2 linked regions of the Homo sapiens genome follow. The protein of the gene in region 1 purifies or fractionates together with the protein of each later gene. This does not show direct contact. Each region holds a gene or a part of one and is shown on either strand. Other genes may lie near its edges.

Evidence for each region. The genes of interacting proteins can lie anywhere in the genome.
Region 2: the proteins of KLF15 (region 1) and VWA2 purify together in Homo sapiens (affinity purification with mass spectrometry; 2 studies listed by BioGRID and IntAct, with this or other methods). This does not show direct contact.

The regions. Positions count from the first base shown.
Region 1 is NC_000003.12:126,342,130-126,347,431, forward strand, and holds the end of KLF15 (Krueppel-like factor 15), read right to left. Parts: intron 1,767-5,302; coding exon 1,598-1,766; 3' UTR 506-1,597; downstream 1-505. UniProt on the Homo sapiens protein: Transcriptional regulator that binds to the GA element of the CLCNKA promoter. Binds to the KCNIP2 promoter and regulates KCNIP2 circadian expression in the heart. Is a repressor of CCN2 expression, involved in the control of cardiac fibrosis.
Region 2 is NC_000010.11:114,234,387-114,242,265, reverse strand, and holds the start of VWA2 (von Willebrand factor A domain-containing protein 2 precursor), read right to left. Parts: upstream 3,013-7,879; 5' UTR 2,697-3,012; intron 2,653-2,696; exon of another isoform or gene 2,395-2,652; intron 491-2,394; exon of another isoform or gene 1-490.

The DNA.
Region 1 (5,302 bases):
CCGAGTCTCACCTCTGCCTGCTCAGGATTCCTAACACTTTCACAATTACCCACGCCAGTAGGAAATGGCACAGCCACGTTCCTAAGGGGGTAAATACTCTGCCAAGGCACAGCAAACATATAGGGCATGTGTAATAGGTTTGGTGGACTGGATGGGGGTAGGAAGTGCAAGAAAGGGTCTCCGATAGCAGAGTAGGTGAGCCTCGCAGGACTGGCCAGGCCTGAGGCAGCTTCCCACAGGTGCTGTCGGAATGTGGGCTGGATTTGGGTTTACGGAGCTCCAGGTCAGGGAGCCGGGATGAGCAGAATCTCAGCAGCTGGCCTGGAGCTGAGCTGTATGGGAACCCTACCCTGCTGGACCGGGGCTGGACCCCAAGGGGCCTTTCTATCCCTCCAAATACAAAACAGAGTTCCCTGAACTCTGCGAAGGTGGAGACATAGACTCGGCCCCAGAGTCACCTCCACATCCCGGCAAAGCAGGAAAACAGCACATGAATGCCAAAAGCTGTGAGTTCTTTTTCTTTTTATTGGCAAAGTAAATATATTTTTATGAAGGACCAAAGAAAATATACGTAATTGTAACATATGTACACCAGCTTCATAGATTTTTTTAAATTTCAAATTTACACAAATGTTGATATGTTATTAAAAGATATTTTATGTGGATGGACCTATGTACAGTTTATTTACATACATTCATAGGATGTGAAATAAACCTGTCAAAACAAGCTAGTTCATTTATTAATTTCTAGACAAAATAAGGAATGCATTTCTAAATCAGGGTTGGGAGGCTCTATCTAGTTCTCTCACACCCAGGACAGCCTGGCCCTCTCCTCCCAAGGCCACCCTAAAGGCTGGTGTCTGGATTTGTCTGGGAAACCGGAGGAGGGGACGAGCCCCTGGGTACAGGCCCTTCTGGCTCTGTCTGCCCTGCACATTTAACTCAAGCACATGCACTGCCAGCCCCCTAGTGGGGGACGCTTTTCACCTCTCTCCCACATGAGGGCCCAGCGGCCCGGTCCTGCCCCCCCCCCCCCCCCCCCCCCCCCCCGGCTCCAGGGACCTGCCCACACCCTCTGGTGATCATGCTGAGCAGGCATCTTAGACAAAGCCACCCTCACACCACAGTGCAGCCCTGGACTTCTGGCCTACTTCCTTCTCCTCCAGCATGACTCTCTCTGGAAACCCAACATTTCAAAACTGCACATTTCATCTTCCCCTAGCACTAAAGTTCTGGCCTTGGCCCAGGATGGGGGAGCCCAGTGGGAGAAGGGCCAGGTCCCCAAAACTCTGCCTGCAACCAGCGGCTGCAGCAGAGGCCTGGCCACCGCGGGAAGGCACGAAGGCACGAAGGCACGAAGGCCTGCCTCCAGCCCCGTGCGCCTGGGGCCCAGCCCCCAGGGACGCGGGTTCGAGGCTCTAAGTACTCCCGAGAAAGGCAGCGGTTGGCGGGCCCTGGGTTCACACCTCCCAGGCTTCAGAAGGTGGGCTGGTAACATTGCCATGTCCCTCTGGAGGAGGCAAATAAATTATTGCTTAAAAAAATGGGGATGGGGTGGGGATCCGGGGTGACGGACAGGCTGGGGTTCAGGGCGCTTTCAGTTCACGGAGCGCACGGAGCGGCTGCTCCGCGGGAAGCGGTGCACCTTGATGTGCTTGGAGAGGTGGTCGCTCCGCGCGAACTTCTTCTCGCACACAGGACACTGGTACGGCTTCACACCTGAGTGCGAGCGCCTGTGCCGCGACAGCTCGTCAGAGCGCGAGAACCTGCGGGACATGGCGCGGTCAGCGAGGCCTGGCCCTGCCTGCCCCTGCCTGCCCCGACCCCACGAAGTTGCCGGGATGCAAGGCGTGCACCTGGCACTCACCCAAAGGGTGGCTGCGCAGACCTGCAGCCTCTACAGGATTAGGGGAGGGTCCCCCATCTACGTCGGTAAGGCTATACCAGTTCTCAAAATACCATTTTTTTTTCTTTTTTTGAGACAGGCTGGAGTGCAGTGGCGCCATCACAGCTCACTGCAGCCTCCCGGGCTCAATCAATCCTCCTTAGCCTCCAGAGTAGCTAGGATTACAGGTGTGCCCACCACACCCAGATAGTTTTTGTATTTTTTTTTAGAGACCAGGCCTCCCTATGTTGCCCAGGCTGGTGTCAAACTCCTGGGCTCAAGCGATCAGGCTACTTCAGCTTCCCAAAGTGCTGGGATTAAAGGCGTGAGCCACTGTGCCAAGCTGCCCCTGCCACCCCTCCAAGATGGAAAGAACTACAGTAAAGGCTCATGCTGGCACAGTGGGCATTCTCTGTTGGGAACTGCCAGAGCAGCTGGTAAAAGCTCCCAACAGGAAAGGACCCCAATGCTACCAGGGACCAGGGCTTCCCTCCCACAGCCCACCCAGTGTGCAGGGGTCTCTGAGGCCACAGGTGCACTCAGTCGCTCAGGCCCTGATGCTGGCTGCCTCTCACCACCCTGGCCTCATCTACCCCACTGGACCAGAACTCCACAGGGGCATCTGTGAAGGCCTGTACAGGACCGCCCATCCGGAGGGGAAACGGAGGCCTGGGAGGAGGAAGCAGCACAGGGAGAGAGGTCCTCAGACTTGAGTCCACCCACTCCTGAAACCAGCTGTGCTGGAAGCTGGGCCCTCTAAGGCAGGCCCAAATAAAGATTGACCCTGCAAAGTGTATCTGGGAGTTCAGGTGGCTCCCGACATTTCGCTTTCTTGGCCCTGCTGGCCTGGGAGCAGGCACTCATGTGACAGTCAAGAGCCCAAGCTGCATCGAGGGCCTGGACTGCTTGCCACCAACCTCAGGGATTTGAGGCCCTCTCCACCCCTGGCTTGGCAGCAGGTCCCTCCCACCCCACCTACCCCTCCCACGACACACTATCCCGCTCTGTGCTCCACCTGCATTGACCTTTCCTTGGTCCTTCTTGCCACAGGCCATTTGCACATACTGTTCCCTCTTTCTAGAATGTTCTTCCCTCCCCCTCCTTGCTCTCTCCTACCCATTCCTTAGAGCTCAGCTCGAATGTCACTTCCTTAGGAAATCCCTCCAGGACTGCATCCAATTCTAGGCTCCTGTGGCATTACACACCTCTCTCTCCTCATTCTTGCTGTTGTTTTGATTTTAAATTATCTTCAACTTTTTGATGACTGTCAGTCTGTCCCACTAGACTGTCAGCTCCATGACAAAGGACATGTTTGTCTTGGTTCCCGGTGGTCTTCCCATGACCAGCCCAATGCCTGGTATATGGTAGGTGCTGAGGAGGTGGATTTCAATGCAAGAGTGGGCACAGCAAGCAGCCCTAGGGGGGCAGACACTGTCAAGGAGCAGTCCCAAAGCATGCACGCACACACACACGGACAAATACATGCCCACACATACAGGCACACAAACATACACGGACGAATATGTGCCCACACATACTCACACACACACACACACAGGCACAAATTCATGCCCCCATGTACTCACGCACACACACACACACAGGGACACGAGGCCCAACACCCCTTTGTGGACCAGGGCCACCCAGCGAGAGGCGGTGCCCAGAGCAGCAGTTCCCACCCAGCAATTGGTAAGGGCTGGTGATGCCCTGGCGCCCTGACCCTGTGGGTGGAAGAGCAGAAGGACCCAGCAGAACATGCTCTGGACAAGGCACAGGGGGTGGCAGGAGGGCCTGCAGGAGGAGACAGGAACTCCGACTCACATCACAGAGTGGTGGTGGCACCAGGCACAGGGCAGTGCTTTCAGCACATCTCCAGACTAGGTGAAGCCCAACTGCCCTGCCTGTCAGAGGAGGAAACTGAAGCTCAGGGTGCTGAGGGCCTGGTCCAGGTCACTGACAAGACAGGGCCCCTGAGGCTGGAGCAGAGGTCTTGACACAGCCCCCTGCCCTGGCAATGGCAGATGACCTGGACTCCCAGTCAGCAGAGCCCCCCAGCCTCCTGTACAGGCCTGGATGGGTGTGTGTGTCACAGGGCCCTGTGCCAGTGAGGAAATGGGATAAATGTGCCCTGGCAGTCAAAGCTGACACCTGTGCTCCTGGGCAGGACACCTGCCCCCAGCTGCAGCTGGGCACACAGCTTCTGAGCAGAGGAGCTGGCCCAGGGCAGGGGTAAGCAGAAAGCTGCAGACACAGAGTGCCACGCCTCCCAGGCTGCAGCCCTGGGGTCACCCAGCATCTCACTGGCCAGGGAACCAGGATGAGCCAGCCCCATTGGACTGGCAAGACCATGGCAAGGGTTTAAAGAGGCCAAGTCACACAGCCCAGGGGACAGAGTCTCAGGCTCCTGCCTTGACAGTTCCCACCCCACTGGGTGCCCTGAATGGTCCTTTCTGGGCCTCAATTTCTTCATTCATCCAATGAAGACTCTGGCATTCCTGCCCACCTTCCAAGACTCATCTCAAAGGCCACAGGTGGTGACGTGGGGCCACACAGATCTCTGGTCATGGTGACACCCTGGGAAGGACAGGCAGATGAGATAGAACCAAGCTGGACAACATGCTGTCCTCACCTGAATTCCCTCCCTGCTGCCACAGGGTCCTGGCACCTGAGAGGAACTTCCCTGGGAACTGAGCCCTCAGAAGACCCCCTGCCTCACCCCTGCATGCCACATTCTCCCAAACAGCAGCCAACAGAGAGCCCTGGGGACTACAGTGGGGGATGTGGGAACCCGGTGGGTAAGATGCAGCCCTTGTAGGCAGTAAGCTCTGCCACTTACCAACCAGGCAAACTAGGAAAGTCACCAAGCTCCCTGAGCCTCAGTTTCTCTACCCAGACAAAGGGAGAACAAAAGACCTATTCCTGAGGACTGTGAGGATTGTACAAGGCAACCAGTAACGGTTTAGAGCCCTGCTTAGCACGTGGCAATTATTCAAGAATGATGAGCTCTTATCACCTGCATGGAGTTGAGTGTTGGGCCTGGTTCCTGGTGGGTCCTGCTGCAGACAGGGCAGCACTATGATTTGTGCTGAGCTGTAGGGCAGAGGGTACACAGGGGTCCAGTGTCTCTCTAGAGCAGCTATAATGTCAGGGCTGGTGCATACAGCACTTCTGTATGAAGGCGTCCCTTCCTTGAGACACTAACCCTCATCCGCCAGACAACACCGCAAACAGTCCAGTCTCAGAAACTGCAATGGAAATGGTGCTCCCTAGAGTTGTGCAGTTCACAACCTGCCCAACCATACTGGGGGCCTCTGCCTACAGAGGGAAGGAGGTCAGAAAAAGCCTCAATGCAGAGGGGTCATGAGAGCAGGCTGGGAGCCAGACCCCTAAGTTTGAATCCTGCACCTACCACCTCTT
Region 2 (7,879 bases), on another chromosome or scaffold:
AAAGGTTGTCGCCAGGACCCCATGAAACCACGATGCAAAGGCTCCCGGGGCAAGGGCAAAGTTTCCTAATTTGAGACCAGGGAAATCTAGTTCAAGAGAAGAGACTCATGATCAGGAAAAGGAAGGGGAGGACCGAGGGTAGTAATCACATTCAAGGAAAGTCAGCAGCTAATGTGGTAGGTGGAAGAGGAAAATTAAGCAGTCCAGAGCTGTTTAGAAGACGAAAGGTCACACAAAGGAAGGGACTTCAAATACATTCAGCTGTCCCACTGTGCTGCCTTGGGGTTATACAGAAACATTTTGCAGGGAATGCACACACACAATCACCAACAGACTTCCAATAGCCTCCTTGATGATAGGGAGGGGGGTGGGATTTGTTTTAAAATAGCCTTATTGGATAAAATTAAAAATGAGCAATTCTATTGCAGGCCTCCCAATTAAACTAGGTTTTCATTTACTGATATATGCACTGCAAAAGTTTGAGGACCACTGTTCTAAAACAACCTCGTAGTGTTGCTGACCCTCTCATTGCTATAATTACATGAAATTTCATTTACCCAGTAAAAATTATTAAGCATCTGCCCTGTGCCCGGTACCCTTCCAGGTACTGAGGATGTGAGGACAATGCTTTGTAAGATGCACACACATCAGGGGAGTTATTAACAAAAAAGGCATTTTCACCACAAGCTTATGATGCCGTCACTGCCAAATAACTATTCTGTTTTTATGATGCTCATTAAAAAGCCAGGAGGGGAAATGTCAGTGTATATTACCGAGCGAAAGACACCAATCTGAGAAAGCTACGTACTACATGATTCCAATCATAAGACATTCTGGAAAAGGTAAAACTATTGAGACAGTAGAAAGATCAGTGATTACCATGTGTTGTAGGGAGGGTGGGATGCACAGAAGATTTTTACGGTAGTGAAACTATGCTGTTTGATACTATAATGGCAGATTTATGTCATTTTACATTTGTCCAAAGCCATAGAATGTACAACAGGAGCAAACCCCAGGGCAAACTGTGAACTTTGGGTCATAATGATGTGCCAGTGTCGGTTCATCAGTTGGAACAAATGTACCACTGCAGTGGGGGATGCTGACAATGGGGGAGTCTGTGCATAGGCGGGGACAGGAGGTATATGGGAAACCTGTACCTTCTGCTCAATTTTGCTTTGAACCTAACACTCTAAAACTGGGTCTCAGTTTCCTCATCTGTAAAAACATGGGCTTCTGACTATGATTCGGATATCCCAGGGGCTTGTGCCTATTGAAGAGAGGGGAAATACTGGCTGTAATCTCTGTACGGTAGACCAAAAACCAGATTTAATGAAAATACACTGATGGTTTTCAGCCAGAGATGATGAGGAAAGCAATCCTCTTCTCCAACCTGGGATTTGCCTGGGGACCTAGTCTGAGAAATTCTTACACTACTAGGAGATGGCTCTGGGCTGGATTTTACAAAAGAAGAGTAAGGCCTGAGGAGCTCTGAACCCCCATCAGTCACAAGAGAGGATGGCTTCAGCCTGCTGAAAGCCAGCAGCATTTACAAATTCATGCCTGTGGCTTTTGCCAACTCTAGTGGTACCTTTCTGACCTCTTCACTTCTCTGACTCTTCAATAAATCGACATTTCTTAATATAGTGTCACCTTAACAGCAAAAGAGACCTTGAATTTTTGGGACTGAATTTATAAAACACTTAGAGGTTCTGGGGTTTTACTTAAAGCAGCTTGTAATTTGAAAAATGTACACGTTCTAATTATTCCAATCTCCAAGACATCAAACACATGGCATGAGGTCCCCATTGCTAAGTCCCCTTTCAGCTTCAGCTGGAGCCCTTGATTCCACAATCACAAGCAGCAAGGTGCCCTCCTCCCTTCTCTTCTGTCTGGTGCCCCCAGCAAGTTTTCAAGGTTCAATTCTGAGACTCTCCCATTCACCGTCCCAGCAGGTGGCCAAGGGCCCAAGGCGGGAGGGAAAGGTCGGCTTAGCTAGGGAAAGTTTTGTTAGCCTTATTGGAAGGGAAGGAGACATGCAGGAAGCAGGGCTGAGCCAGGTGGGGGAAGTCACCAGAACGACAAACCCCTGGACTTCCCACTGCCCAAGCGCGAGGACTCTCGGGGCAGCCGGCCCCTCTCAGGTTCTGCTTGCAGACACTTCGCTGGGGGCACTCGTTCTGCCTGGGAAAACTGCCCCAAGTCCCCTTAACACCTGTGTATGTCCTGTAGTGGGGTGTGGGGTGGAAGCGAGCATGTCACCAAAGCCTTTATTCAAAGGGCGAGTCCCTTTCCGCGGCCGCCAGGGAAGGGGGCCCCGCTACTGTGCCAGGAGGGCAGCTTGGGTTTAATACATGCCCTCCTCCACCCCTGTACCCGGAGCCCCTACCCACTTACCTGCTGACCGCACCCCTCCCAAAACCCCGCCAGCTCGCCCGGGACGGACCGCGAGTGGCCACGAGGGAGGCGCGCGCCAGGTGCGCTCTTCCCCCGACGCCGCCGTGCCAGGAAGGCCGCGCTCAGGTGCGCGCAGACAATGCGAACAAAGCCCGCACCCTCGGCGGGGCCGCGCAGCCCGGGTGCTCTGGGTAGGGGTGGCTGGGCAGAGGGGGCCCCAGTACCGGGAGCGTGAATCGGTCATCGGCAGCCGGCACTGGCGGGTACCCGGGCGCCAGAGCCAACTCGGGGCTGGGACTCACCGGAAGGAGAGCGGCGACCAGCGCTCGGTGCCCGGGCGGCTCTACTCACAGACCCGGGCGCGGCTCGGGCCAGGGGGCGCTACGGGATCACAGGAGGGGCGCCCGGGGCGCGGCTGCCACGTGGGACACCTGTTTGTCTCTCCTGGGAGAGGGCGGCACGACCCGACCCGGCTGAGGTCGGAGGAACTACCGCCAGGGAGGTGCATAGAGCCCCTCGCGTTTTTTAAAGCGGCATCGGCCCAGGTCTGCAAATAAAAAAGTACTTCACTTCTACGCGGGTCACCCAGCCTCCGAGCGGTGCAGCCGCGAACACTGTGCCGTCAGCTGACTCCTCCACGGGCTTTATAGCTCCTTGAAAAAATGTTGACTTTGGCATCTTTTCTATTTGTCATGGCAATTGCCTTTTAATTACCTGTCCCTCCTATTGTTGCAGTTGGGTAATAAGCCGACCTTTTGGCCATCATCCTTGCTTAAGATTGGAGGGCGTTTGATTTTTAAAAAATCAAATGCCACAAAGCACAATGCTGAGCATGATGCTTTATATAAAGTAAGCTCTCAATGAACGTTGACTATGACTGCACAATCCATAATTTCCATACTTCATTTAAAAACTGCCAGAGCATGCCTGTTCATTGCAAAAAAAAAAAAAAGAAAAGAAATAACAGTAAAAAAGTTGATAAATCAATCATTTTCCAACACCCAGAGATAATCAGTTAACATTGTGGTGTATGTTCTTCCAATGTCATTCTACCTATGCAAAAATTTATATATTTTTAGTTCATTCCATACAAGCTGTACATTACTCAGGTTTTCCATTTCCTTTTTTTGAATGTCCGTTTTAAGCCACTTCATAATGTCCTAATGTACTTAACCTATCTGCTATTGTTGAATATTAAACTTTCCATTTTAATAATACAATTAGATGTCTTTGTGCTTTTGTCCAATTAATTCCTTAGAATAAACTACGAAAAGGTAAATTTCTAGGATACAGGTTTTATACAACTTAAGACTTTTGATGCCTATTATCTAATTGTCCTCAAGGAAGGTTGACCTGCTTCCTCTTTTCCATGCTCCTTCCCATTATTCTTGTAAATGTCAATCTGATAGGAAAATAATTTGCTTTACACCTTTCCTGTCTGTAGTTCTCAGTTAATTTCCAAACCTCCGACACTGACAGCTTCCAGTGAAAGTGGCCCGTGGTGACTTTAATGTTGCAAACCTCATTGAAGGAGGCTAGGAAAGGACTCATTTTTCCTGTAATTCATTTCTCCCAGTAACATTTACTGAGCACCCAAAAATAAAAACAGGGCCACACCAGAGCAGCAGACATAATGTACCACCACATCATCCCCACAGGGGACAGCAGTTAGTCTTGAGGTCTAACTGCTGGGGAGGGATGGTCTCTGCCTCTAGATCAGCATTGCCCCAGAGAAATACTGACCAAGCCACGTGTGTAATTTTAAATGTTCTAGTGGTCACATTTAATAAAAAGTGAAAAGAAACAGCAAGCTGGATTTCAGTATTAACCTAAACATCCGGAACATTATCTCAACATGTAATCAATAAAGATGTTTTATGCTGTCTTCAAAGTCCTGTTTTTTTGTTTTTTTTTTTTTTTTTTTTGTTTGAGACAGAGTCTCACTCTGTTGCCCAGGCTGGAGTGCAATGGCATGATCTTGGCTCACTGCAACCTCTGCCTCCCAGGTTCAAATGGTTCTCCTGCCTCAGCCTCCCGAGTAGCTGGGATCACAGGTGCACACCACCATGCCCGGCTAATTTTTGTATTTTTAGTAAAGACAGGGTTTTGCCATGTTGGCCAGGCTGGTCTCAAACTCCTGACCTCAGGTAATCCACCCGCCTCAGCCTCCCAAAATGCTGGGATCATAGGCGTGAGCCACCACGCCTGGCCAATCCTGTTGTATTCTATACTCACAAGCACATCTCAATTTGGACTCGCCACATTTTTAAGTGCTGTATAGTCAAATGGGGTGAGTGGCCTGTGCTGCTCCAGAGATGTCCAACAAGGGCAGACCCCAGGTCCTCAAGAAAGTGGAAATTCTACCTTTGACAACCCTCTCCCTGTACCCCTTATGCTGTTTAACAGGTACCAGCATACTTTGACCTTATCAGGCTTACCTTGGAGAAGCCAAATTTCAATCCTGGTTGTTCCTGAAGTATTTGGCATGTCTTTAATTGGGGGCGGGGGGGGGGGAGGTATTTCACATTTTCATTCTGTGATTATGAAGAACTGAAAGCATAAATACAGTGAAGATACCTGTTGCTTCAGACTTCTTCACATCAATGTATAATCAGTCTGTCCGGGGTGTGCACTTGGGCAGGAGGGAAGGCAGGTGGTGCAGGCCCTGGTGAGTGCTGAGTGCTGAGTGGGTGACCAGCAGGGGTGGAGGCTTTTTATGCAGAAAGCTGGGTAGCTACTTTTGTCATCCATGACATCCCTTCCTTTGTGAAGATTTACAAGGATTTAAAAAATAAAGTTATTATGAATTACAATCATTCTAAGGGGCATGTAAGCTTCTTGCTTCCCAGGAGCTTGCCTTATTCATCTTTGCAGCCCAATGCCTGGTAACTTGCACACAGTAAATGCCCTCAGAAATAAAACCCCATGTCCTCCACTGACTGAAAGGACCCCCTCTTGTCCAAGGGGACCCCAGAGAAATATTTTTGAGACTGAGTCTCGCTTTACTGCCCAGGCTGGAGTGCAGTGGCTGGATCTCAGCTTACTGCAACCTCCGCCTCCCAGGTTCAAACGATTTTCATGCCTCAGCCTCCCAAGTGACTGGGATTACAGGCGCCCACCACCAGGCCCGGCTAATTTTCGTATTTTTAGTAAAGATGGGGTTTCACCATGTTGGCCAGGGTGGTCTCGAACTCCTGACCTTAAATTATCCAGAGAAATCTTAAAAGCGGAGTTCCCATATATGACTGGAAGGGAGACGGGAAACAGCTTGTTATACCTGCTCCTTCACTATCAGCCATTAGTTTTTTTTTTTTTTTTGGAGAAAGGGGCTTGCTCTGTTGCCCAGCCTGGAGTACAGTGGTGTGACCTTGGCTCAAGACCTGCCTCGACCTCCTGGGCTCCATTAATCCTCCCATCTCAGCCTCCCGAGTAGTTAGAACTACAGGTACGTGCCACCACACCAGGTTTTTTTTTTTTTTTTTTTTTTTTTTGGTAGAGATGAGGTTTCCTTGTGTTGCCCAGGCTGGTCTTGAGCTCCTGGGCTCAAGCAATCTGTCCATCTCACCCTCCCAAAGTGCTGGGGTCACAGGCATGAGCCACAGTACCCAGCCTTCTTTCTTAAGGGTTAAACAGAAACCAGCCCTTTGGGAAAGACTTGCTCCACCCCTGCTATCTTTGAGGGTCTCACTGTATCCCCCAGGCTGAAGTATAGTGGCACAATCATAGCTCACCACAGCCTTGACCTCCTGGGCTCAAGCAGTCCTCTTACCTCAGCCTCCAGAGTAGCTGGGATTACAGCCACGTACCATTGCACTGGTGGTTTTTTTGTTCTGGGTAGAGATGAGGTGTTGCTCTGTTGCCCAAGCTGGTCTTGAACTCCTCAAACTCAAGGAATCCTCACAGTGCTGGGACTGCAGGTGTGAGCCACTGCACCTGGCCTCTACTATTGATATGAACCAACCACTTGATGCTGCCCCTTCCTTTTAAGGTTTCAACAAACCAAGCAACCAGCATTCCTTCCTAAGAGACAATGGACCATGGAGTGGCTCTGGCTAGTCTATAGAAGATGTACCATGAGAGTTGTGTCCTCTGCTTCACCTTTTGACCCAAGAGGGCCAAAAACTCCACCCCAGAATCATGCTAATACCATTTTTTTGTACATGTAACCCATCAAGAGTCATGAAGCTTAATTGCACATGTACATCTTTCATAAATATTCATGACTCCTCCTATAGTTTACTGTGTATTTGGCCACTCCACTCAGCATAAATTCCTGTCTTATTTTTCCCAACCTGGAAGTGTGTTTCTGGTTTCTGGCTGGAGGCTACACTTTCCAGACTGTAGCAATGGCTACCCTGCCAGTGGCCACGCTTTATGAAAAATAAAGCTCTCCTTTCCAAATTCATGAACTTTCTCATTCTTCAGTTGACACCTTCTATGATGTTAATTCTCAAGTTGCGCTGTCCCGTGTGTCTCAGTTGTAAACACAAGAGGTATAAACACAGAGTCTTAGTGTAAACTGAGAGTGTAAACACAGAGGTGACTGAATTTCACTCAGGGATAAATGGAGACATCCGTACTCGGTGACATGCATCACCCAGAGGCACCCATTGTAGTAAAGTGACTGTGGCTTCAGATTAGGGGGCTCCTGCCTACTGGCTTTGTAACACAGAAAAGAAACTTAACTTTTGATTGCTCAGTTTCCTGACCTATAAAGGGTGATGGGTACAACAGTTCCTAACTCTAGAATCCCAACTAATATTTTGATCCAGTCCCTCAAATGATGAAAGGTAAAGCACACACGAAAGGAACAGACAAAAAGGAGGATGCTTAATAGAGCTCCAAGAGTTGTATATTTTCCAGAAGCCACATAGCAGCCACTAACCAGAGCCCTCTTATTGAGAAATAAAAGAACACGAAACAGTACCTACTAAACAGCAAAGAAACCATCCTAGAGGAAACAAAGAGCCTGACTCAGAAGCGCTCAACAAGCAGCAAATTAAGCCAGAGCCTAATTTGGTCTGTGGTCTCTTAACTGTGGAGCCAAGAACAAGGAGAACAAAGTTGGGGGCAGAGAGAGACACAGGACATGAGGAGCAGAAATATTGCCATCTCCAAGCCAAAGCCACTTAGGTATGGAATAGGCAGCAATTGTTTGAAGGGTTAATGCATCCATCCCAGCTCCTACTTAAGACAGTGAGAATTATGCGCAAAGTTGTATTGGATTTGCTTTTGGGAAATGTGCTTTCTGGCCGAATCAAGTAAACATGGAACAAAGGCACACGCTTGTGTAATAACCACTCAGCCAACATATGAAACTTTCTAAGTGCTCTACCTCAAACTGTCAATACTTCCATGTTATTTCCATCTCCTCTCCAAATTCCCAGTATCATGAATTTTAGTCATCACATGTCTGCCTTAACTAAGTATTCATGGAACACATTTAGAGAGGCATCTGGGTATACTCTGGAGGCAGAGTAGGCTC